Regions from separate parts of the Homo sapiens genome. Here regions 1 and 3 are each linked to region 2. Evidence: fine-mapped expression QTL. A gene starts in region 2. Each other region holds a variant in brackets. All regions are shown on one strand. Distances are between the middles of the regions.

What was found. PIP is the estimated chance that this variant, and not a neighbour inherited with it, causes the effect.
Region 1: its variant is fine-mapped to the expression of DOCK7 in whole blood (INTERVAL, PIP above 0.99).
Region 3: its variant is fine-mapped to the expression of DOCK7 in whole blood (TOPMed, PIP above 0.99).

What each region holds. Positions count from the first base shown.
Region 1 is chr1:62,624,629-62,632,628 of GRCh38, forward strand. DOCK7 (dedicator of cytokinesis 7) reads right to left here. Exons shown (of 50, transcript NM_001367561.1): 11 at 6,612-6,777; 12 at 631-773. Among named protein-coding and RNA genes, the nearest start is that of ANGPTL3, 31 kb to the left of the region's middle. The variant A/G (reference allele first, on the strand shown) is at 3,908.
Region 2 is chr1:62,684,134-62,694,736 of GRCh38, forward strand. DOCK7 (dedicator of cytokinesis 7) reads right to left here and starts at 4,253. Exons shown (of 50, transcript NM_001367561.1): 1 at 4,094-4,253. The coding sequence starts at 4,131. DOCK7-DT (DOCK7 divergent transcript) reads left to right here and starts at 4,349. Exons shown (of 2, transcript NR_185999.1): 1 at 4,349-4,519. RefSeq lists a silencer at 3,606-4,355 and an enhancer at 5,365-5,659.
Region 3 is chr1:62,520,931-62,528,930 of GRCh38, forward strand. DOCK7 (dedicator of cytokinesis 7) reads right to left here. Exons shown (of 50, transcript NM_001367561.1): 31 at 7,221-7,375. Among named protein-coding and RNA genes, the nearest start is that of ANGPTL3, 73 kb to the right of the region's middle. The variant T/C (reference allele first, on the strand shown) is at 4,647.

The sequences.
Region 1 (8,000 bases), 61 kb before region 2:
TAAAGAAAATTCATAAACAACCAATGTTTAAGAAAAGTTACACTATTAACAATTTGGAAATAGGATACAGGCTGGACATGGTGGCTCACACCTGTAATCCCAGCTGGGAAGCCGAGGAGGGTGGATCATGAGGTCAGGAGTTCGAGACCAGCCTGGCCAACATTTAGTATCCTGTCTCTACTAAAAAATACAAAAATTGGCCAGGCATGGTGGGTGCCTGCAATCCCAGCTACTCAGGAGGCTGAGGCAGGGAGAACTGCTTGAACCTGGGAGGCGGAGGTTGCAGTGAGCCGAGATCTGTCTCTGCACTCCAGCCTGGGCAACAGAGCGAGACTCTGTCTCAAGAAAAAAAAACAAAAAAAAACAGGATACAGGTATGAAAGATGGATTTTGATGCATTATTAGTCATGGTCAACATTTCAACATTTAAATAAATATAATGCTAAAATAATAGGAACAATATAAATCGTTTCTCATTCTTATAGTTGCTTTTATTATTTTTATTCTTAAAGTTTTTAAGTTTCTTGGAATCACCCTCCCATACATGTATAGTACAATCACTACCTTTCTGAAATTAAAAAAATTTATGCACAAACATCTCCCCAAAATTCCTACATGACAGAACAATACCTGCTTAAAAAAATTTGTCACTGTGAGAGTAGCTGGTCGAAAGCTCGTCAAGTTACAAGCATCATCTCCACTTGTTGTCCTTTCAAGTGATCGTCTGCCAACAATACTAGAATTCCTCCTCTCTGACCAAGACCCTTTTCGTTCTACAAAAGAATTAAAAAAAAAATTCATTTTCATAGAAGTTAAATTTTGTTTTAAAGTAGCTTTCCAAACACAAGGAAGAATCTACTAAATTGAAAATTACCCACTCAGCATATCAAGTATAGTAGGAGAATTTTGCTTTTGGAGAGATTAGTAAGAAAGTACCTAAATCTTCTGGTTGTCTTTTTACAACATCACAGGTGTAAAAATAAGTTTCTAACATGCAAAGATCTATGGGCATGACCAATGATGAGCCACAAAGAGCAGCTATAGAGGAAGTATGCATTTACTACAAAATGTTTACCACAGGAAAATTTTAGTCATCGTTAATCTTCCCTCAGTCTTAGCTCTTTAGTTTGAAAGAGAATTGTAAGATAATTTGTATTCAAAGTACTTGCAAGATAATCCTATTATTTAAAACCAACAGAACTAGACTGAAGATTAACAAGGAAATAGAATACTTGCACAAAACTATAAACAAACTAGACCTAATGGACATTTACACTACACTAAAGTACACTAAGCAAGAGCAGAATATACATTCTTGTCAAGCACTTAGAAAATATTCTCTAAAACAGTCTATATACTAAGCCATAAAACAACATACAATACATTCAAAGAGATTAAAATCATATAAAAATGTTCTCCAACAACAGAAGAATTAAACTATAAATCAATAACAGAAGAAAATTTGGGGAATTCACAAATGTATGTAAGTATAATAGCCCATTTAAAAAATAGCTAATGGAAAAAGAAGGAATAATAGAAATTAGGAAGTATTTAAGATGTATGAAAATGCAAGAACAACATACCAAAGCATTGCTAAAGCAGTGCTCGGGGGAGGATTTACAGCTATTAATGTCTATTTTAAAAAGAACTATCTCAAATCAGTAATATAACCTCAGACTTCAACAAACTACAAACTACAAAAGAAGAGAAAAAAAATCCGAAACCAGCAGAAGGCTACAAGAGGCAACTGCAGAGTGGAAATAAGGAAAATAGAAACTATAAAAACCATACAGAAAAATCAATTAAACCAAAAACTGTTTGTTCAAAAAGATAAACCCGACAAATCTTTAGCTAAAATGATGAACCAAAAAAAAAAAGACTCAAATTACTAAAATCAGGAATGAAAGAAGAGATATCATTTACAGACTTTACAGAGTAAAAGGAATAAAGGAATATACAGCAATACTATGAACAACTGTAGGCCAACACTTAGATTAGATACCAACTAGATAACTTTGATGAAATGGACAAATTTCTAGAAAGATTCAAAGTATTTATATTAAAACTGACTCAAGATGAAAGAAAATGTGAATAGACCTAAAACAAGTAAAGAGATCGAGTTAGTAATGAAAAAACTTACCACAAAGAAAAGACCAGGCCATGACAGGTTCACTGGTGAATTCTTCCAAACTTTCAAAGAATACCAATCCTTCAAAAACCCTTCCAAAAAAATGGAAGGAACACTTCACAACTCATTCTATGAGGCCAGTATTACCCTGATACCAAAACCAGACAGAGTCATCAAAAGAAAGAAAAACTACAGACTAATATACCTTATGAATATAGATGCAAAAATCCTGAACAAAATACTAGCAAACAGACTCCAACAACACATAAAAAAGATTACATGCCATGACCAAGCAAGACTTTTCCCAGGAATTTAAGGTTAATTTAACATCCAAAAACCACATCATTCGATGCAACACCACATTAAAAGGATACAGGACAAATAATTCTAATAGAGGCAGAAAAAGTATTTTACAAAATCTAACAGACTTTCATGATAAAAACACTTTTAAAAATTAGGGATAGAAGAGAACTTCCTCAATCTACCAAAATACATCTATGAAAAGCCAACAGCAAATATCATACTTGATGGTGAAAGACTGATTGCATTTTCCCTAAAGTCAAGAATAAGACAAGGATATCCACTCTTGTCATTTCTAAAACATTGCAGAAGAGGTTCTAATAAAGACAGAAAAGAGAAAGAAATAAAAGGCACCCAGACTGAAAAAGAAAAGTGAACTACTTTTTATTTGCAGATGACACGGTTTTGTATACAGAAAATCCTAAAAAATCTGGGGAAAAAAACGAACAATAACAATTCGAATTTAGTAAACAAATTCAAAAAGGGTTCAGAGTATAAGATCAATATACAAAAGCCAATTTTATTTCTATACACTAGAAATGGACTTTCTAAAGACAGAATTAAGAAAACAATTCCATTTAAAATATTATCAAGAAACGATAAAATACTACGGTATAAATTTAACAAGAGAAGGACTTGTACACTGAAAATGACACAACACTGAAAAAAATGAAAAAGATTTAAATAAATGAAAAAAATTTCATGTTCATAGATTCAAAGATTTAAAATTGTTAAAATGGCAACAATCTATAAATTGACTTAGAGATTCAATGTCAGCCCTATCAAAATCCCAGATGCCTTTGTGCACAAACTGACAGCTGGTCCTAAATTTATATGGAAATAAAAGAAACCCAAAATTGCCAAAACAAATCTTGAAACAGGATAAAAGCTGGAAGACCCACTCTTCTCAATTTCAAAACTTAGCCTTCAAAGGTAAAGTAATTTGGTATAGCAGCGGTCCCCAACCTTTCTGGCACCAAGGACTGGTTTCATGGAAAAAAATTTTTCCACAGATGGGGTTGTGGGGATCGTTTCAGGATGATTAAAGCGCATTACATTTATCATTAGAGTCCCATAAGGTGCACGTAACCTAGATCCCCTGCATGTGCAGCTCACAATAGGGTTCATGCTCCTACCAGAATCTAATGCCACTACTGATCTGAGAGGAGGCAGAGCTCAGGCGATAATGCTAGCTCAGCTGCTGCTCACCTACTGCTCTACGGCCCGGATCCTAACAGGCAGGACAGGTACCTGTCCGCCACCTGGGGATTAGGAACCCCTGCAGTAAAGCACTGGCATACAGATCAGTGGAATGGGATGGAGAGTCCAGAAATAAATCCCACATGAATGGTCAATTGACTTTCAATAAGGGATCTAAGAAAATTCAATGGGAAAAGAATAGCCTTTTTAATAAATGGTGCTGAAACAACTGGATATCCACATAAAAAGAATGAAATTGGACTACCTCACAACATACAA[A/G]TATTAACTCAAAATGGATTATTATAAACCTAAATGTAACAGCTGAAACTATAAAACTCTTACAAGAATACATACAAGTAAATTTTGATTCATATTACATAATGGTTTCTTAGATAAAACACCAAAAGCACAGTGACAAAAGAAAAAAATAGAAAAATGTAACTTCCTCAAAATTTAAAACTTCTGTGCTACGAACAATACCATCAAGAAAAGTGAACTCACAGACTAGGAGAAAATTTGCTATCATATATTAGGCAAGGAATTTGCATCTTGAACATATAAAGAACTCCTACAACTCAATGCCAAGAAGGTTAAAACCCCATTTAAAAAATAGGCATCAACTATTAATAAATAATAAAAAGACCAAAGCCATTAAAAAATGAGCAAAGGTTAAAAATACCTATTACTCCAAGAAAGATACACAAATAGCCAATACACACAAAATGATGCTTAATATCGCTAGCTTTTAAGAAAAGGTAAATCCAACCTACAATGAGTACCACTTCACTTGCACTAGAATGACTACAATCAAAGAGCAGATAATATGTTACACTGGTAAAGATATGCTGAAACTGGAACCTTCACACACTAGTGGAATGCTAGTGGAATTTTTGAAGGTGCAGCCAAATTGGAAAACAGTGTGGCAGTCCTTCAAAAGATTAAGCACAGAATTATCATATGACCCAGCAATTTCACTCCTAGCTATATATCTACATATCTAAGGAAAAAAAATGTCCACACGAAAGCTTGTAAATGACGTTTCAACACTATGAAACATTATGCATAATAAACTAAAAGTAGAAAACCCAAATCAACTGATAAATAAATATAGTATATCAATACAACAGACTATCATTTGGCAATAAAAATAAATAATACCAATACATGCTACGACATGGATGAACCTGAAAAACATTATGGCAAGTGAAAGAAGCTAGCCACAAAAGACTACATATTATACAAGTCAATATGTATGAAATGTCTGGCATAGACAAATCTATAGAGACAGAATATATATTAAAGGTTGTTTAGGGACAGGTTGCAAGACTCTGGGGGAATGAGGAGTGACCACTGCTAATGGGTACAAAAGTGTTCCAAGATGGATACAGAAGTATTCTGTAGCAGTGGTTGCAGAACCCTGTGAATATACCAAGAAAACACTGCACAGTAAGTCCTCATTTAACATCATGGATCAGTTCTTCAAAACTGTGACTTTAAGCAACACGTTGTATAACAAATCAATTTTACCACATGCTAATCAATATAAGCAAGAGTTAAGTCCCTACAGCATATTTCTGGTCACAAAAACTTAACCAAACTTCTAAATATTCAAAACACTTCTAATATTAAACATTCAAATAAATGTGCACTGTACATACATTTAAGAAAGATTAATAAAAATAAGTAGGATAATTATTTACCCAATTATCCCAGTTCAGGGTCACAAATGGCCGAAGCCTGTTCCAGCAGCGCATGAAAGAAGGCAGTGTATGGCAAATGCACCCGACAGCAGTAACTTAAGCAAGCCCTGAGAATGACCCTATGGTCTAAAAAGAATGTGTATTCGGAGTTCCGAGCTAAGGAACCTGGGAGTGGCCAAACTTGAAGACTCATTCCTTATCTATGAGAATAAGGACATCTGAACTTCTAGCCCATCCAGTGAAATCTAGGCCATACATGGAATCAAGGCCCTTTGTTTTGGGTTAAATGAGGGTTTCCAGGTAGAAGTTACTAGGGGGAGGATGCTAAGTGAAAATGCTACATAAACTGCATGCTTTTTCAAGTGGCTGTGGTTTTCGGTCCAGCTCGCCACTCTGCATGTAAGTTCCCTCAGTAAACCCTATGTCTCATTCTCTGGCTCCCCATCTCTTCTTCAGCCTGTGATATGATGTTATACTTACCAAAGTCAATAGGGGTCCCGCACGACAGGCAGGCACCTGTCCTGGACAGGACGCTATTCCATCACAGGTGCACTCACACACACACACCCATGTTACCTTACGCTGCTACCACTTAAGACATGCCAATTAACCTCATGCACACAGCTTTGGGATTTGGGAGGAAATGAGTACCCAAAACTCCCCACACAGACTTGGGGAGAACATGCAAACTCTACACAGACAGTAGCTCCAGCCAGGAATCAATTTGTTTCCTCATCAACATTATAAAAAATCAAAAACAAAATGAGATATTTGAAGATCTCCTGTATTGTACAATTTAAATTGGTGACTTATATGGTATGTGAATTATATCTTAATAATGGTGTTAAATGAGAAAAAGGCAAAAAAAAAGAAAAAAGAAAATCCTTTTTATGCAATATTACATTGCAGAGTCTACAAATGAAACAAGCTTATATAAGAAAAAAGAGGCCGGGCATGGTGGCTCACATCTATAATCCCAGCATTTTGGGAGGCCGAGGCAGGCAGATCACTTGAGGTCAGGAGTTCGAGACCAGTTTGGCCAAAATGGTGAAACCCCATCTCTACTAAAAATACAAAAATTAGCCAGGCGTGGTGGCGCACATCTGTAATCTCAGCTACTCAGGAGGCTGAGGCAGGAGAATTGCTTGAACCCCGGTGGCAAAGGTTGCAGTGAGCCAAGATCGTGCCACTGCCCTCCAGCCTAGGCCATAGAGCGAAACTCCATCTCAAAAAAAAAAGAAAAAAGTAAACATTTAGAAATGTTTTGTATGAAACACTCTTACCTCCAGTACTGATTTCTACTTCTGTAGAATCTCTTTCCAAACTCCCAGCACTGCTAACAATATTCATTAAATGGATTGCAGTCCAAGCAAAAGGCATGCGATATTTCCCAAGTCTTTGGCAAAACTGATCTGCTTGACTCTTCAGTTTCTCCAGTTTTTCTTTATTCTGCAAAACAGAACTTTATACATTATATGATTATACTTGAAAGAAATCAGTTAAAGGCTATTTCATACTACATAAAGGAAAAGGATGAGAAGTCTCAATTCTCAGCAGAGATGAGAAAAAAATCTGTACCTTACAGAGATGAAGTATTAGTGCAATATCTTAACCAGTGAACAAACTCAACACATTCTACAAATGTACGTACAGAGCAGGTCTTTGAAATTTCTATTTGTGATTATGTTATTCTGGGGAGAAGAGAGTAAGTACCAAACATGTATTATGTATTCCAAGTATTGTTTTAGGAAGTATAACCATGGTCTAGTCAGCAACTGGTAACTACAAAATATTCTAGTTATAATTTGTTAAATTTTGTTACTCTATAAAAGATGGAAGTAGCTGAGCACATTTGAAATAGTCCCTAACATATAACAACCATGAGTTAAGAGTGGGGAAGCACGAATAGGCCAATGATAAACAAGCTCAGAGTTGTAACAAAAGAAGGAAAGTAAAAAGTAAAAAGGAAAGTAGAAGAAGACTAAACGCTGGAAAAAGACTAACGGTCCAAATATTTAATAGTACAAGCATATCTGGAAGACATCTTGAGGCTGGCTCAACTTTTAGGCTACTCCTGAAACAAACATCAAGAGGTGGCCTGCAAAAGCCAATCAACACTCAAGACTGAAACCTATACTACCTCTCTCATATACTCTTTGCAGATGGGATGTTGAAGTATACACTAATGACAGTGTCCTACCTTGGGACTCAGGGCTAGAAAAAGATGAAACGATAACTAAATGATAGCACTATTACTATCTCTACTATACCCTTAAAACAGTTCTTATTTTAAGTATATTTCAAGTATACTTAATTCTATCAGTGTATGTAAATATAAGTAAAAAGCAGAATAAGCTGCTAGTATATTTAAGAGCACTATGTAACAGAGCAAATTTAATGTAAAATGACAACCTGGGGACAGCCAGAATACTATACTTAAACCATTAGTTCAGCCAGGTAATCAAGGATCAAGAAAAAAATATCATGTGCTCAGATCTACAGAAAAAGCTCAGTTCTTGTTATGAATCTTGGGAAAATAGCAAAACATTTTCTGGGTTTGGGTTGCTTACCCAGTATTCCTCAAGCATACTTCTCCCAGAAGTTCCAGTATTAAATCTTGTGTTCAAAGATCCAAAGATCACTTGTATTCTTGTAGCTAACCCATAGTATCT
Region 2 (10,603 bases):
GGGGCAGTGGGGTGGAGGTTGCAGTGAGCCGATTGCGCCACTTCACTCCAGCCTGGGCGAAAGAGCAAAACTCCATCTTAAAAAAAAAAAAAAAATCTGAAATCAGAGAACTAGGATTTGAGTCCCAATTTAGGCAAATACAGTTGCTGTTTTTAGGCCTCAATTCCTCATCTAGAAAATGATAACAACAGTAAGTAATATGGAAATCATAATAGCAGTGGCTAACATTTTTGAATGCTTATGTTCCTGACACAGTACTACTAATGCATTATTAGAACTGTATTAGCTCACTTACACATGTATTAACTCATTTAATCCTCACATTAACTTTATTGAGGCTGTTATCCCCATTTTTCTGTGGTATATGCAGAATTTCAACCTGTGCAATCTGATCCCAGATCCTATATTCTTTAGTACATTTTCTGCCTCTCTGGGTTATGAAGATGAGAATGCAGTAAAAAGTGCTTTAAGTGTACACAAATGTTCATCATTACTGCTGAGTATCAAGCAACAGGACAAAATAATCCCAACAAAATCCTAGACAATTTGTCTACAGTCTACATTCCATAAATCCATGGGCCTTATCCTCAAAAAGCAAAGGGGACACACATGTACAAAGACAACTACTTGATATGGACAAGATATACATGCTGCTTTTCTATGGTGAGCTGAAGTAAACAGTATAATTAGTGATAATAAGAATAAAGAGCCTTCAGAAATCACCAAATCACAGCCTCAAAAAATAACTGCACTAAATGCAAGGGGCTAAAAAATAACTGCGACAGAAACAAGATCATTATAATTCTTTTTAAAGTATAGGTTTCTGAACAATCACAAAGCTTTGAAAAGAAATAAGGTTTCAAACAGCAACAGGCTTTTCACAGAGCAACAAATTTCATATACGAACACTAGGAAAAGGATTATCATTTCCAACAAAAGCCTCAAACCACATTATAAATACTGTAGTAAAAAACAGTTGATACTTACTAGGCACTTAGAGCACTGTTCTAAGCACTTTAGAGGTAACAATTCATTTAATCCCCACAACAACCCTACGAGGTTAAGTCTTACCATCATCCTCATTTTCTAGATAGGGAAAACGAGGCAGAAGTGTGGTCAAGTAACTTGGCCATGTTTACTCAACGAGTGGCTGTGCTGGGGTGTCAAACCCAGGAACTTCATCTCCAGAATTTGTGCTATACTTCCTCTAATAGAAAAGTTAAAAAGCAGAACACGAATTGATTCAGAAGTATTAAGTATTATTCAATCATATTTGATAACAAGGAAGAACCTTTCATTCACAATAAGCAGTTAATAATGCATTACTCATAGCAGTTCTGTCTTTGGTATTCCTTCCAAGTTAAGTCTGCACATTCTCACTGGACAATCTCATCAACCCCCACCCACCCCCGGGCTCCAAATGCAATCTACTTGCTGATAACTCTCAAATCTAGATCTCCAGCCCAATCTCTCTTCTGCACCTTCAACCTGCACCAAAAACCAAATAGATATTTCTCTCTGAATGATTCATGAGCCCCTCAAAATTAACATGTCCAAAACTGAATCATCATCTCCATCCCACTTGCATCTCCCAATCTCAAACTCCTTTTTCCTCCTGTACTCCCTTACCCCAAAGACTGCCACCATCATCCACGTGGTTGCCCAACTTAGGATGTCATCCCAGACTCCTCAGTCCGCCTCACCTTGCATGTCCAATCACCAATCACTACCATATCCACCTCCTGTCTGTCCAATAAGTGCACATTTCTTCATTCACATTATCTTAATTTTATAACTTCTTAGAAAGCTGTTCTTATTTGCATTTTGTGTTGTTTTGCACAACTGATTCTCTTTTTCTCTTGTGGTTTGTCCTATCCCATCTGGTGGCGAACTCCACTAATAGACATACAATTTCATATCCAACTCTCTAAAGTGCACTTACTTTATCAGCATGATGTTTTCAGAGATAAACTTCTGGTTCTAATAAGAGAAATTAAAACTAGGAATACATGTCAAGTAATAACTTTTTTTTTTTTTTTTTTTTTTTTTTTTTTTTTTTGAGACGGAGTCTCGCTCTGTCGCCCAGGCCGGACTGCGGACTGCAGTGGCGCAATCTCGGCTCACTGCAAGCTCCGCTTCCCGGGTTCACGCCATTCTCCTGCCTCAGCCTCCCGAGTAGCTGGGACTACAGGCGCCCGCCACCGCGCCCGGCTAATTTTTTGTATTTTTTTTTTTTAGTAGAGACGGGGTTTCACCTTGTTAGCCAGGATGGTCTCGATCTCCTGACCTCATGATCCACCCGCCTCGGCCTCCCAAAGTGCTGGGATTACAGGCGTGAGCCACCGCGCCCGGCCAGTAATAACATTTTTTAATGACATCATCATCAGAAGTAAGACCTAATTATTTTACAAAAAAAAAAAATTTCCTGTCATCATAACTCCCTGGGAGAAACTAATTACTACAAGTGTTTGATGACAGGTAGTATAGGCCCTGTACTATCCTACGCACATTACACAAATTATGCCACTTAATGTTCACAACAACACTATGAGCTGGGTCCTATTATTATTCTCATTTGCCAGACGAGGAAACGGAAATTTGGCCCAACAACTTGGCCAAAGTCCCAAGCTAGAAAATACCAATCAGGATTTGAACCCATGTCGGGGTCTGAGAGTAGAGCCCATGCTCTTAAACACTTGCTATTTTGCCCCTTCAGGAAAAAAAAAGTGCTAGAACGCTGGAAAGAAAGAAAAAAAAAAGCCTCTGCCTCGAAAGCAGCTAGGACGACAGGTGCAACACCACACCTGGCTAATTTTTTTGCAGAGATGGGGTGGGGGGGACTCGCTATGTTGCCCAGGCTGGTCTTGAACTCCTGGCCTCAAGCGATCCTCCTGCCTCGGCCTCCCAAACTGCTGGGATTACAGGCCTGAGCCACTGCATCCGGCCCAAAATTTTTAAAGAAATGTCAGCAAACTAAAAAGACTCAGAGCCACAGAACTACAACTGCCCCAAAACAAAAAAAGGTAATTTAATATGAATGCTTCTTTTCTTGGGACATCATAATTCACACAAATATGATTTTATTAAAACAAAAATGTCTACTGTCTCATACATAAGTATACTCCACAAAGAAATTCTACAAATATTAGAGTCCTCTGTCATTTAATTTTTATTTGGCGGGTGGGAGAAAGGTGGCAACCAACCACCACAAGTAGGTGAAAGGCTTTGAAACCTCCACCTCAATCACTTGCTTTACTTCAAGACTGCAATCACTTGCTTTACTTCAAGACTGCTAACATATAAAAGGATGTCAGTGTATAAAGAACACTGCCTATCATCCATCTTCTCGGGTGCTCTGAGAAACACAGGCGCACAGTTAAATTCACAGGCGAACTCAGAACAAGCTTCAGCCTGCAATCCGTCAGGGATTCGGCAGCTGCACACCGAAGGTGCAGCCCGCAGCTCTCAACTTTTCATTCTGTCCACACGTTTTCAATCCTGGACGCACAAGTCCACTTTGAACCTGGCCCGAGGGTGCAAAGAGGGTTCCTGTCAGATTTCTCAGGAAGAGAGAGACGCGTGAAGGAGGGGCGGCCTCCCACCCGCCCCGAGCCGCCGCGCGTTTCTCCTTTTGTTGGGGTGGAGGAGGGCGGACCCCGCACCCTCTAGGGGCCAAGAGGGGTGGGCGGAGAGACGGGAGGGGGCGAAACGCCGCGGCGGCCCCCGACGAGCCCGGGGGTGGGAACACAAAGAATTTGGGAAGCGGCCGACCGCCCTTCCATAAACCTCCGCAGAAGTCCAGGCCCGGGCCGCCGAGGAGCAGGAGGAGGCGGGCGCGCTGGAGTCCGCGGCCCTCTCCGCTCCCTGCCGAGGCTCAGCGGCGGGCGCGGGCTGAAGGCCGGGGTTCGAGGGCGGCGCGAGGCCTCCGCTACCCCCTCAGCCACCCCGAACCCCTTCCGCCCCGCCGCGAGCCAGGCCGCGGGATCCCGGTGCCGGCCCCGCCACACCCACCCGCCTCCTAGGCCAGGCCTGGGAGGACTCCGCGGCTCTTTCTCGGGCGGCGGCGGCGGCGCGCCCCACGCCGGATATTTACCTGCTGATCTTCTGGGCGAAGGCGCGGCGCTCGGCCATGGCTGCTGCGGCGACGGCGACGGCGGCGGCGGCTGCGGCGGGCCGGGTGCGGACCGGCGGGCGCGTGCCTCCTCGCTCGTGCTCCCTCCCTCGCGGCCTCCGCCAGTCCGGGCTCCGGACCTGGGAGGCTGGGGCTGGCGGCCGGAGCCAGGAACGAGCCCTGCCGTAATGTTCCTTAGAGGCGCGCAACGAGAAACCGCTCCTCCCCCAGCGCGTCAATCCCGGCGGGAACCCCGGCTGCGGAAGGCGGCTGCGGCCGGCGGGAGCCGAGGGGAAGAATGGAGCGCTGAGGAAGCGAGGCGCCAGCCCCAGCCGCTTCGCTGCCGCGGAGCCTGCACGACCGAGAGGTCGCGGAGAGAAGCCAGAGACAGGCCAGCGACCTGGCGAGGCAAGAAAATAAGATAACCGAACGCGTAGGGGGAGCTTGGCTTTCCCGAAATGGAAGGGAAGGAAATGAAAGGTGGGCTTTGCCGAGGGGGCTGTGCTTTAACCAAAGCCCTGGATGACTGGGTTCATGTTTCTGCAGCACCGGTCTCCGAGCTTTTTAAAGCACTTGGGTTTCTGCTTCGGCCTCATGAATGCAGCCTAACTGGAGAAACAGTGGTTTTTCTTATAGAGAAAGAGCCAGAAAATACCTTGCTCCTGCAGCGATAACAATAGTAATAGTTGACTTCTGGTGCTTAGCCAGCCACTGGATTAAAGTTTTTCAAGCACGAGCGCTTTGAAGTAGATCGTTACTATCACTATTTTAGAGGGAAGGAAATTGGCTTGGAAAAGCTAAGTGACTGGCCCCAGGTCGCACAGATGGTAAACTCTTCCACTGAGACTCAAACCCAGAGCCGGTTCTTTTCTTTGAGGACAGTTGTTTCCGTATTATTAACCCCTTTTGGATCTCTCTCTGTCTCTCATACATACATATATATATATATATATATATATATATATATATATATATATATATATATAAAATCCAGGTGAGCTCTAACGTTCACCCCCATTTTGATGTTCTGTTAAATAAGCTCTGTGTTGACCACTGAAACTGACCTTGTCCATAATAGCCTATAAAACAGAGACTAGCAGAGATTTGTTTTCATCTGTTCTGTTGTAATCCCATAATGTCTAGAATATTTGGCTCCTAATGCATATCTGTTGATACTGAAATTATGGTGACACTAAGAAAAATATCTTGGTTTCTTGTAGTACCTTTCCTCTTAAGTATTGCAAGAACTTAAAATGTGTATTTATTTATTGTTATTATTATATTCTCAGTATGTCCTGGTGGAATATGTTGGATACCTGTTTTCCTCTCTTTTACCATTGGAAAATCTGTAGCTTGGAGCCATTAGGTCACTTGCCAGAGTCACACACTGAGTCAGAGGTGAAAGCCTCAATTAGTCAGATCCATAACTTCCTGTCTAGTGCTGTAACTTCTGTGGAAGACTGTGTATTTATATAACAATGCTCATTGCAGTAACACACTGCTTTTATTTATTGATTTATTTATTTTAGACAGAATCCCCCTGTGTTGCTCAAGCATGGAATGCATAGGGCACTGCAGCCTAAAACTCCTAGGCTCAAGCAATCCTCTTGCCTCAGCCTCTGGAGGAGTAGCTAGTACCACAGGCTCTTGCCAAGGCGCCCTCCAGTAACACACTGTTTTCAGATGCTTGTTTACTAAAGGAAAAGATAGTCTATTCAAAGAGGACAGATATTTGGCTTCTACCTAAGTATAGAGCCCACCTAGGTGTTCTAAAAAACACGAAGGTGAACTAGACACAGACCTGCTCTCAGAATGTTTGAGTCCATTGGGAAAGATGAACCAGGTACTCACAGACTGTAAGTCAAGGCTATCACTGTACCTGGCTTTTAAGACCCTCTGTGATAGGAACCCAGACTTATTTTGCCACTTTCTTACTCTGTAACCTTAGGCAAGCTACTTAACTTCATCTCTAAAAGGAGGAAAATAATTATATCTACTTGAAAGGGTGTTGTGAAGATTTATTGAATTGATTAATATAAAGTTCTTAGAACAGGGCCTGGTTCATGGTAAGTACGATGTGTGTCAGCTGTTGTTATTATTATCACTGTTACTGTCATTATTCATCCTATACTTAAGCTTGTCCTGGGTGTTTGATAGTCCCTGAATTGGTTGTCTGCTCTCATACTCCCAGCCAGATGTTGCATGCCTTTATCTCTGTTCTCCAAACATCTTTTCACTACTCTCTTAGAGAACTGGCCACATTTTGCTTTGAATAGTTCTTTGTATACATGACTCACTAGTTGCCAAAGTGTCTGAAAGGACTTTGCATGTACTCTGCAGCTTACTGGAAACATTTAGAGCAGGAAGAGGACAAGCAGGATCACGCTGTAAGCAGGGTAATTCAGAGTCTGGGGAACACTCTAAGCAGGAAGGGTGACCCCCTACCTCTGGGGAAGAGCTGGCAGTCACAGACCAAGTCATGTTGGCTGGTATCCCTGCCCCACAGGGTTTCAATGTCAGGAAAAGATATGGAACGCAGCAATGGGAGTGACAGTGGAATTGCTTCAGCTGACTAGCATCCATGCTCCCTATACCACCCCCTACACACACACACACACACACACACACACACACACACACACAGGTGTCAATCCACTATACTTCTGGGGAGCTCACTCCACCACCCTCAGTTTCAAGGGTCTTTTGACCTGGGCCTCACCAAGCAAAGCAGCACACTCCTCTGGCTTCTGTAACTGATTTAGGGATAGGCTCATGAATCAAACCAAGACAATCGGGCCCAACCAGAATTAGAAATTGCATTTGGTATACCAGGGCACTCCATCTAAAGAAGGCCTACCTGAGAATGAAGCCAAGCACAGCAGAGAGGAGAGCAAAAATATTGAAAAAGACAAGTTCCTTAGAATATAGCATGACTTGAGCCTTGGACTTTGCAGTTACATGAGCTAAAAATGTGCTGGAATTTTTTTGGGGGTGTGGCTGGTTTTTCATTAGGTTTGCTTTCATTAGCAGTTCAAAGTCTTACCTGATACAGGACTTCATTCAGTTAACTAACATTCATTAAGTACTATACTAGACCCTGGAAATATAGTGGTAAATAGCGCAGTATTTCTGTCCTCAAAGAGTTTAGGGTCTGGTAGAAGAGAAAAGTAAGTAAATAGTAAGTTACATGCTGAGACAGGAAAAATTAAGGAAGCTATTGGAGTGCATATAAATTCTTGATAGCACCAGTTCTCAAATATGAGGTGTTAAAAACTGGATGGAATTTAACCCTGTCCTTAGCCCTGTTATATAACCTAGGAGAAAGGCTGGCTGCAACTCCGGGAGCATGAGTAGCCCAATTCAGAATTCAGGGCCCAAGCTCCCCACTGATGGAAAGATACAAAGAAACTACTTGCCAGAAGCCAGGACCAATTTGGCAGAGTCTACTCAAAACAGTGAGTTTTAGGTAAGAAAGCCTCAGAACAGTTTTCATTAGACATACCAGTGTACTAAGTCCCTCAAGCAGAAAACTTAGGGATATGACAGAAAAAAAAAAGTAAAGAGAAAAGAAGGTGGGAAAATTATGAGTTTTGCATTCTACCCTTTATTGAACTTGGGTCTACCCGCTTTAATGTAGCACCAAGGAGGATTGTGGAGGGGTCTGGTCAAGGGTCTAAGGCTACAGTACAAAGAAATAGAGTTTTCGGGTCATGATGGATTAAGTTCTGGCTTTGCAGGCAGAATGTGTTCTCTTTTGGGATTTGGGGGAGCATAGGGAATGGTTCCTTTTTTTCAGGCATGGGCTTTTTTTTTTTTTTGAGACGGACTCTCACTCTGTAGCTCCAGCTGGAGTGCAGTGGTGCAATCTTGGCTCACTGCAAGCTCCGCCTCCCGGGTTCACACCAGTCTCCTGCCTCAGCCTCCCGAGTAGCTGGGACTACAGGTGCCCGCCACAATGCCCGGCTAATTTTTTTTTATTTTTAGTAGCGATGGGGTTTCACTGTGTTTGCCAAGATGATCTCGATCTCCTGACCTCGTGATCCACCAGCCTCGGCCTCCCAAAGTGCTGGGATTACAGGCATGAGCCACTGCGCCCGGCCAGGCATGGGTTTTTATGAAACACCGCTGGTTTCATACAATAAGATCAACATGGAGCTTCCTTCTTTGGAAGCCTCTAGCAAGGCCAAATGAATGTGGCCCAGAGAAAGGGAGAACTGAGGCATGATATGTGGGTTTACCTCAATCCCAAACTAAAGCCTAGGAGTTGGACACTAAATCTAAGCTACAGATGCTTTTGCCTGACTTTGTCCTATGTGCTTCACTTCCTGTCAATATCTAGCAAGTGTAATTTTTGCAGGGGGAAATTAAGGGGTCCTCAACCTGGCCATACTTAACAACTAATAGCACCCACATTTACTTTGTTGTAATACTCACCACACTATTGAAGTATTGTCTGTTAATCTTTGCACCCCATCGAACTTGATCTCTTGTTCACCATTGTATTTCCAGTATCTAATACACTGCCTGGTCCATTATAATAACTTAGTAAATGTTTTTGAGTGAATAAATGCCATGAACTAAAGTATTTTTAGATCCTGCCTGTATTCATCCGTTTTCATACTGCTATAAAGAACTGCCCAAGACTAAGTAATTTGTAAAGGAAAGGGGTTTAATTGACTAACAGTTCAGCATGGCTGGGGAGGCCTCAGGAAACTTACAACCATGGTGGAAGGTGAAGGGGGAGCAAGGCAGCTTCTTCACAAAGCAGCAGGACGGAGAAGTGCCAAGCAAAGGGGGAAGAGTCCTTATAAAACCATCAGATCTCCTGAGAACTCACTCACTATCACAAAAACAGTATGGGGGAAACCGTCCCCATGATTCAATTACCTCCACCTGGTCTCTTCTTTGACACGTGGGGATTATGGGGATTACAATTCAAGATGAGATTTGGGTGGGGACACAAAGCCTAACCATATCACTGCCTTAATTTATATTTCCCCAAAAATAGAGCTTGAGGCTTGGATGCAGGTAGTTTATTAGGAAGTGATGCTAAGAAGCTGGAATGAGGAAGTGGAGAGAGTAGAACAGAGAAGGGAAAGCCAGTAAATAGTGTTGTTGAGGTGTTACCACTGTGGGCAATTTAGGCTCAATCCCGCCTGCAACCTGCGTAAAGTGTGGAGTGCACCTCAGAATTGTCTCTTTGAGGCTCAGTATTTACCTGATGCCATCTAGATCTCTTGGCTGAAGGCTTACTATTGGAATATTAACTGCCCGCACACTTAATACTACAAAAAGCTAAGAGACATGGTGTGTGTTTCTGGTGGCCAGCTATCAGTGCCCCTGAGAATTGTTCACCACAGCTACACCTAAAATCGGAAAGGAGCCATGGGGTGAAGTACAGGGTACCAACAGTGTCTATTACAGATCCCCTGAAAGTAATGCAGAGACTACAATAGGGATCTTGCCAGAATAGAACGTATTTGCACCTCATGGTTCTGCTGCTTTACAGAATTGGGAAAGACCAAAAGGCCAGACCACCTGAGTCAAAATGGCCCACAATGCAAGCTCAGTGCCTACTTTAAAAATAGGTCCATAATGTTTTTCCTCAATGGACTATTATATCAGTAGAAAAAAACAGTTTTTCCCATACTCTAACAACATGCTTCTGACACCAGATATGTGGGATTTTTTTCCCCATACATCAAGCAAGCAATCGATTCTGCAGCAGACACCAGTTGAGTCTCCTCCAATTCCGTTCTGGAGTTCTGGAATCTACCTGAAGTTCAGTTCTGACACTGTCTACCTGGAGTTAGCGTCAGATCCCACAGGTTGAGGGCTTGGTCCCACAAGACTGCCCCCCACATCCAGTGCCAATTGCAAGCCACAGGTTGTTCTACCAGTGCTTTGACTGACTGTAAGTTGGGGTTCCCACAACCCCTTTCCTTGAGTTTGATTAATATACTAGAGCAGAACACAGGGGAATATTAATATTTACCAGTTTATTATAAAAGATATTACAAAGGATAAGTAGAAAAGATGCATAGGGCAAGGCATGTGGGAAGGAGCGCAGAGCTTCCATGCCTTCTCTAGGTGCACCACCCTCCAGAAACCTCTACATGTTCAGCTCTCTGGGTTTTGGTAGAGGCCTCATTACAGAGGCATGATCAACTAAATCACTGGCCACTGATGATCAACTTAATTTTCAGCCCCTCTCCCCTTCCTGGAGGTTAGGTGGTAGGGCTAAAAAGTCCTGTATTAATCCGTTTTCATGCTGTTGATAAAGACATACTTGAGACTGGGCAATTTACAGAATTAAGAGGTTTAATGGACTTACAGTTCTACCTGGCTGGGGAGGCCTTACAATCACGGCAGAAGGCAAGGAGGAGCAAGTCACGTCTTACATGGATGGCAGCAGGCAAAGAGAGAGCCTGTGCAAAGAAACTCCCATTTTTAAAACTATCAGATCTTCTGAGACCTATTCACAATCACAAC
Region 3 (8,000 bases), 160 kb before region 2:
GATGAGTTCATGTCCTTTGCAGGGACATGGATGAAGCTGGAAACCATCATTCTCAGCAAACTAACACAGGAACAGAAAACCAAACACCACATGTTCTCACTCATAGGTGGGAGTCGAACAATGAGAACACATGAACACAGGAAGGGGAACATCACACACTGGGGCCTGTCAGGGGGTAGGGGGGTAGGGGAGGGACAGCATTAGGAGAAATACCTAATGTAATTGATGGGTTGAGGGGTGCAGCAAACCACCACGGCATGTGTATACCTATGTAACAAACCTGCACATTCTGCACATGTATCCCAGAACTTAAAGTATAATTTAAAAAAAGGGAAAAAAATGTTACATATAAACAGCATTTAACTAAACAATCAAAGAAAAATGCATAGGCTGAAAATACATATCAAAAAAGAAAGGATGAAAATTAGTGAGTTAAGCATCTATCTCAAGAAGTTAGAAAAAGAACATGAATGTAAACCCAAAGAAAGCAGAAGATAGTAAATAATAAACTTTAAAAAGTGAGGGTCAACAGTGCCACCATACTGGTTCTTTATAAAGACTAACAATACATTTCGACTGTCTGGTAAGACTGATAAAGACAAGAAAAGGTACAAAAATCTAGCCGTAGAAAAAAGTTTACATCTACTACAGATGATACAGACATTTAAAAAATTATACAAGGTATTTTTGAATAACTTTATAAGTCAAGAAATTTGAATACATTTCTACTAGAATAAAATTTACAAAAATCAGTTGTTAAGAAGACCAGGTGCAGTGGTTCACACCTGTAATCCCAGCACTTTGGGAGACTGAGGCGGGGGGATCACCTGAGGTCAGGAGTTCAAGACTAGTCTGGCCAACGTAGTGAAACCCTGTCTCTACTAAAAATACAAACATTAGTCAGGCACAGTGGCAGGCACCTGTAATTCCAGCTATTCAGGAGGCCAAGGCAGGAGAATGGCTTGAAGCCAGGAGGCGGAGGTTGCAGTGGGCCGAGATCATGCCACTGCACTCCAGCCTGTGTGATACAGCGAGATATCATCTCAAAAAATAAAATAAAATAAAATAAAAATAAATAAATACAATCAATGTAAGAAGAAACAAAAAACTTCAATAGTCTCACAGATAATAAATTATAACAGTAATTTTAAAACTTGAAAAAGAAAACACTTCAAGCACAGATGGTTTCATAAGTTCTCCAAATATTCCAGGAAGAGATAATTCTAATCTTAGGTACTTGCAGAGAAGAGGATAAAAGAGAAAACTCCCTACCTCATTTTAATTGGCTAGCCTAAACTTGATTCTAAAACCTGAAAAGAATATAAGAAAGAAAAATTATAGGCAATCTTAGGAACATACGTATACAAATCCTAACAAAATATTAGCAAACGAAATCCATTAGTACACAACTATGAAGAAGTTGAGTTTAATTCAGGATTTCAATGTTGGTTTAACACTAGAAAATCAATTTAAATAAACAACATTAAAAGACCAAAAAGCAAAACAATACAGCCATCTCAATGAATGTGGAAAAAGCATTCGATAACAATTCAACTATTCATAACTAAAAAACAAAATGCTTAGTAAACTAGTAACAGAAAGAGACTTCCACAATAAAGGAAGGTATCTTAAAAAAAACCCAAAACATACAGAACATATGTTTAAGAATGAAATGTTGAAAGTTTTACCTTTAAAGATACAAACATCACCACTTCTATTCAACACTGTACTGGAGGTACTAGCCAGTACAATAAATTACATATATAAAAAAACTGACAGGAAGAAACTACATTGTTATTATTCACAAATTATATGATTGTGTGTAGAAAAAAAGAATCTACAAATATGTTATTAGTTTATCACTTTATCATTTATTTTATATTGTGGAAATAAAAATCATTGTACAAAAATCAATTTTTTTGATAATGAGTATTTTGTTTCTGTACAAAAATTGATTCTATTTCCATATAAAGCAATCAACGTTAGAAAACAGAATTTTTGAAAAAGACACCATTTATAGGAACATTAAAAAATATCAAGCACGAATAATAAATCTACAAAAGATATGCTAGTCCTCCTTGGTAGAAACTAAAAAAGTTTATGTACTGAAAGACACTAAAGGCAGCCTAAACAATGGGGGGATTTGTGTTCAAAAATTACGAGATTCAATAGTATAATCATAATTCAATACAATCTTAACTAAAATTTTAACAGGTTTATTGGTTTTTGTTTATTTATTTTAGTGGAACTTTACAAGCTGATTTTCAAATTTATGTAGATATACAAAGGGCCAAAAAGTAGCCAAGAAAAATTTTAAAAATGTATGACTTTCTCTACATGGTAGACCATATACAGGCAGTATTTCAGAGATGTAGGGAAAATATTCTTTTAATAAACGGTGCTGAAATAATCTGGCATAATATGCAATATAAATAAATAAATAAATGAACCTGGACTCCCAACTTACACTGTATATAAAAAAATCTATTTCAGGTAGATTTTAATTTTAAAATTAAATGTAAAAGGAAGAACAAAAAATTTCGAATGTAACACAGAATACCTTCAAAATTCTGAAACAGAAAAAAATTCCTTAAATAAGATATAGAAAATATTAGCTGCAAGACTAAATTTAAGTATATTAAAATCAGGCATTCTAGGCTGGGCACAGTGGCTCACGCCTGTAATGCCAGCACTTTGAGAGGTCGAGATGGGCAGATCACGAGGTCAGGAGATCGAGACCATCCTGACTAACATGGTGAAACCCCATCTCTACTAAAATACAAAAAATTAGCCAGGCATGGTGGCGGGTGCCTATAGTCCCAGCTACTCAGGAGGCTGAGGCAGTAGAATGGTGTGAACCTGGGAGGCAGAGCTTGCAGTGAGCCGAGATTGTGCCATTGCACTCCAGCCTGGGTGACAGAGCAAGACTCTGTCTCCAAGATAAATAAATAAATAAATAAAAAGTAAAATAAAATTAGGCATTCTAACCACCAAATTCACCATTAAATGGGTAAAACAGCAAGCCACAGAGAAGAAATATTTGAACCACTTATAACTGACAATGGACTTGATCTAGAACATACAAAGTCCTAAAAATCATTAAACAAAAGCAAACAACCAAATGGAAAACAAGCAAAGAACTCTAGACACTTCAAAAGAGAGAATCCAAATGGTCAATCATACTTATGGAAAAGTGCACACCGCACAAGTCTTCGGGGAAATACAAGCTAAAATGAGATTCAACTATAAATGACCAGATTGGCAAAAATTTAAAAATCTGACAATTCTCTAAGTATTGATGAACATGTGAAGGAATGAGAACTCTCATATTGTATGTGTTAAGTATAAATTAAGGTACGCCCTCTGGAAAATAGTTGGCCATTACCTGGTATAGATTAAGATACCCACAGTCTATGACCCAACAAATTCCACTTCTAGAAAATACTCTAAATAAAAGTATATATATGCATGCAGGATATATATAAAAGAAAGTCTGCAAAATTGTTATTTGCAATAACCAAGGATCAGAAACCATTCATGCACCTATCAACAGAATGGGCAAATAAACTGATTTATAGTTAGACAATGGAATATCATACTGAAATGAAAATCAGTGAATTATAGCTACATTTCATAACATTAATGAATACTAAAAACATAATATAAAACTAAACTACAGTATTTTGGCAGGACGTGGTGGCTCATACCTATGATCCCAGCACTTTGGGAGGCCGAGGCAGGTGGATCAACTGAGGTCAGGAGTTTGAGACCAGCCTGGCCAACATAGTGAAACCCCATCTCTACTAAAAATACAAAAATTAGCCAGGCATGATGGCAGTCATCTGTAATCCCAGCTACTCGGGAGACTGAGACAAGAGAATCGCTTGAACCTAGGAGGCAGAGGTTGCAGTGAGCCAAGATCGTGCCACTGCACTCCAGCCTACCTGGGCTACAGTGCAGGGCTCCGTCTCAAAAAACAAAACAAAACCAACCAACCAAACTATATATATATATATATATATATATTACTATAAACTATATATTTTTAAAATGCAAACTTAGACGGTAAAACTCTCTATCTATACATTTTTTTGAGATAGAGTCTTGCTCTGTTGCCCAGGTTGGAGTGCAGTGGCGCGATCTAGGCTTACTGCAAACTCCACCTCCCAGGTTCAAGTGATTCTCCTGTCTTAGCCTCCTGAGTAGCTGGGATTACAGGCGCCCACCACCATGTCTGGCTAATTTTTTTGTATTTTTTAGTAGAGATCAGGTTTTACCATGTTGGCCAGGTTGGTCTCGAACTCCTGACTTCAAGTGATCTGCCCACCTTGGCCTCCCAAAGTGCTGGGATTACAGGCGTGAGCCACCATGCCTGGCCTAGATGGTAAAACTCTAAACAAAATTATGCAATTATATCATCAATCAGGACACTGAGAGTTTGGTGGGTTGCTGTGGTTGAGAAAGGGCATGCTAAGAACTTCTGGATGGCAGCCAACATCCTTGTTTTTGACCTGAGTGGTAATTACAAAGCTGTTTATTTTCTAATGTTTTAAAACCTCATTATGTTTTATGTACTTTGTCATATGTAGTATACTTCACAAAAGAAAAGTTAAAAAAAATAAAAAGGTTAATACAATTGAGAACAA[T/C]GGTCATTCCCAGGGGAGGGAGAGATCAAATTGAGGAAGGCCACTGGTAGCTTCAAAGGTTACCAGGCTGTAATGTCTGATTTCTTAAACTGAGCAGTGGATATGCTGCTGTTTATTTTATTATTACATTTTGTACATGCACTTTATTGTATTATTTTATAGGTAGAATGTCACCAAAAGTGCAATTGATAAAAAAAATTTGCTACACTGGAATTCATTAAAAACTTTCACACTTCAAATGACACCATCAAGAAAGTAAAAAGATAATCCATAGGAAGGGAGAAAGTATTTGTAAATCAGATAGCTGATTATTTTACAAATCCAGAATACATAAAGAACTCTTAAGAAATCTTAAAATAGCAACCTTTTTTTTCTTTTGAGACAGGGTCTTGCTCTGTTGTGCAGGCTGGAGTGCAATGGCACAATCCTGGCTCACTGCAACCTCCACCTCCCAGGCTCAAACAATCCTCCCACCTTAGCTTCCCAGGTAGCTGGGACTACAGTAGGCACATGCCACCACGCCCGGCTATTTTTTGTGGTTTTGGATAGAAACAGAGTTTTGTCATGTCCCCCAGGCTGGTCTCAAACTCCTGAGCTCAAGCAATCCTCCCACCTCAGTCTCCTAAATTTCTGGAATTACAGGTGTGTGCCACTGTGTCTGACCAATGACAAAAGATTTGAATAGACTTTTCTCCAAAGGAGATATACAAAACAATGTGCCAATAAGCACACAAAAAGATGTTCAACATCTGTAGGTTGTTAGGGAAATGCAAATCAAAACTACAGTGAAGTTCCAATTTACAATCACTAAAGGTGTCCTAATCAAAAAGACAGATAATAACAAGTGTTGATGAGGATTTGGAGAACAGAAATTCTTATTCATTGCTGATGAGAATGAAAAACAGTACAGCCACATTAGAAAAAAAAAAAGAGTTTAGAAGTCTCTAAAAATGTTAAACATAGAAGTACCATATGATCCAGCAAATCCACTCTTAGGTATCTACCTAAGAGAGATGAAAACATATGTGGACACAGACTTGTACATAAATGTTCGTGGCAGCATTATTCTTAACAGCCCCAAAGTGGAAATGATACAGCTGTTCATCAACTGACAAATGGATAAACAAACTTTGGTGTATCAATACAATGGAATACTATTTGGCAATAAAAAAGGAAAGAAGTATTGATACATACACGACATGGATGAACCTCAAAAACTTATGCTTAGTGAAAGAATACAAACACAAAAGATCATATAGTAAATAATTTCATTTATATAAAATGTCCAGAATAGGCAATTCTATAGATAGAAGTAGGTTAGTCACTCTCTAGTGCTGGGGTAGGAACGACTGCTAATAGGTATAAGGAATCTTTTCAGCGTATTGGAAATGTTCTAAAATTAGCTTGTGGTGATACCTGCGCAACTCCGTAAATATACTAAAAACCATTAAGGTATATATACTCACAATAGGTGAATTTTTTGATATGTAAATAATCTTAATAAAGCTATAAAATTGTCAAGTTTCCTTAAATATTACTGCATTTTTCTGGAAAAAAATGTCATTTAAAACTTTTAGAACTTGATCTTGCTCTATTGGCAATTTGGTTCCTTCCTGCCCTGATCCTTCTGCCTTTAAGAGGGGAAAAGTTCAGGGGCATAGTAAATATCAAGTGTTTTCAAAACATAAAAAAGTATAAATATTCACAGATTAAAAAAACCCTCAAATGACTGAGAATCTTTCTTAGGGCTGACAAAGAATAAAACAGGTTTAAAAAAATAAAGAAATGAACTATTCCAAAGGATTATAAATCATGCTGCTGTAAAGACACATGCACACGTATGTTTATTGTGGCACTATTCACAATAGCAAAGACTTGGAACCAACCCAAATGTCCAACAATGATAGACTGGATTAAGAAAACGTGGCACATATACACCATGGAATACTATGCAGCCATAAAAAATGATGAGTTCATGTCCTTTGTAGGGACATGGACGTAGGGACATGGACGAAGCTGGAAACCATCATTCTCAGCAAACTATTGCAAGGACAAAAAACCAAACACCGCATGTTCTCACTCATAGGTGGGAATTGAACAATGAGAACACATGGACACAGGAAGGGGAACATCACATACCGGGGCCTGTTGTGGGGTGGGGGGAGGGGGAGGGATAGCATTTGGAGATATACCTAATGTTAAATGACGAGTTACTGGGTGCAGCACACCAACATGGCACATGTATACATATGTAACTAACCTGCATGTTGTGCACATGTACCCTAAAACTTAAAGTATAAAAAAAAAAAAAAAAGAAATGAACTATCTATAATGAGGCAATTTTCCAAATTCTGAATGACAGAATACGGGGCTTTTTCCCATAAACCTTGAGGTAATCATTTTTTAAAACTGTTTGGGAGAAGACAGTTAATATTCTGGGAACTTTAATATTTTCATAAATAAAACTGAGCACTTTTGCATCAGCTGATACAATCATCTCATATATTTAAGGGCATATCCTAGTAAATATTTGTCTTTCTAGAAAAAAAAATTCTGTAGGAGGATTGTTTTTACCGTTGACGTGAGGAGGAAACTGCCAGGCCTTGTTAGTTGAGGGACCGATGTCCCTGCGATTGCCATGGCAACGGTCTGGCTTATCATACTTCCGCTCTCACTTTCATAATCATCAGTGGCTATACAAATTGGTCTTCCTCGTTGATTGTGAGTTTCTAAAGAAAAATAATCCAAAAAAATAAATAAAACTGTTTAGCTGAACTAATTCCCTTTCCTATTCTCCACTATTCTTTAAAAGAATAACTTGTTGACATGTTATAGTTATTAGATTTACTTCTTTTGGATAATATTTTAAATATCTTTAACAGTAACTCATTGCTATGGTAATAATTTATAGTTTACAGAGAACATTAACTTGCTAGTCAGAAGATGTAAGAATATAAACATTTCTGCCTTCAGGTAAGGAAATTCATTTTAGTGATCAAAATACTTGAAAGACTGCTCAACAATCAGTCTCTTAAGGCAAATAGCTGGTTATCTTTGCAACACCAGCACCTGTCAAAGTTCTTAATACACATTAGATACTCAGGAAATGTTTCTGTTTTACTGAACTGGAAGCTATCGGGCTAATTGCTGGTTTAAATTCCCTCATTTGCCCTAAAGAAAATATTGTTGCAAACTAAATTCTGTATTTAAGTAAATTCTAAATATGGAAAGCAAGAGCAATAAAACTCTGTAGGTTCTAGTTTTGAAGAAGTAATACCACTTCAACTTATTAACCTGGTGTTAGCAATAAACACAATTCCTGATATTCAAGTGAATATTCATTTCAATTTTATA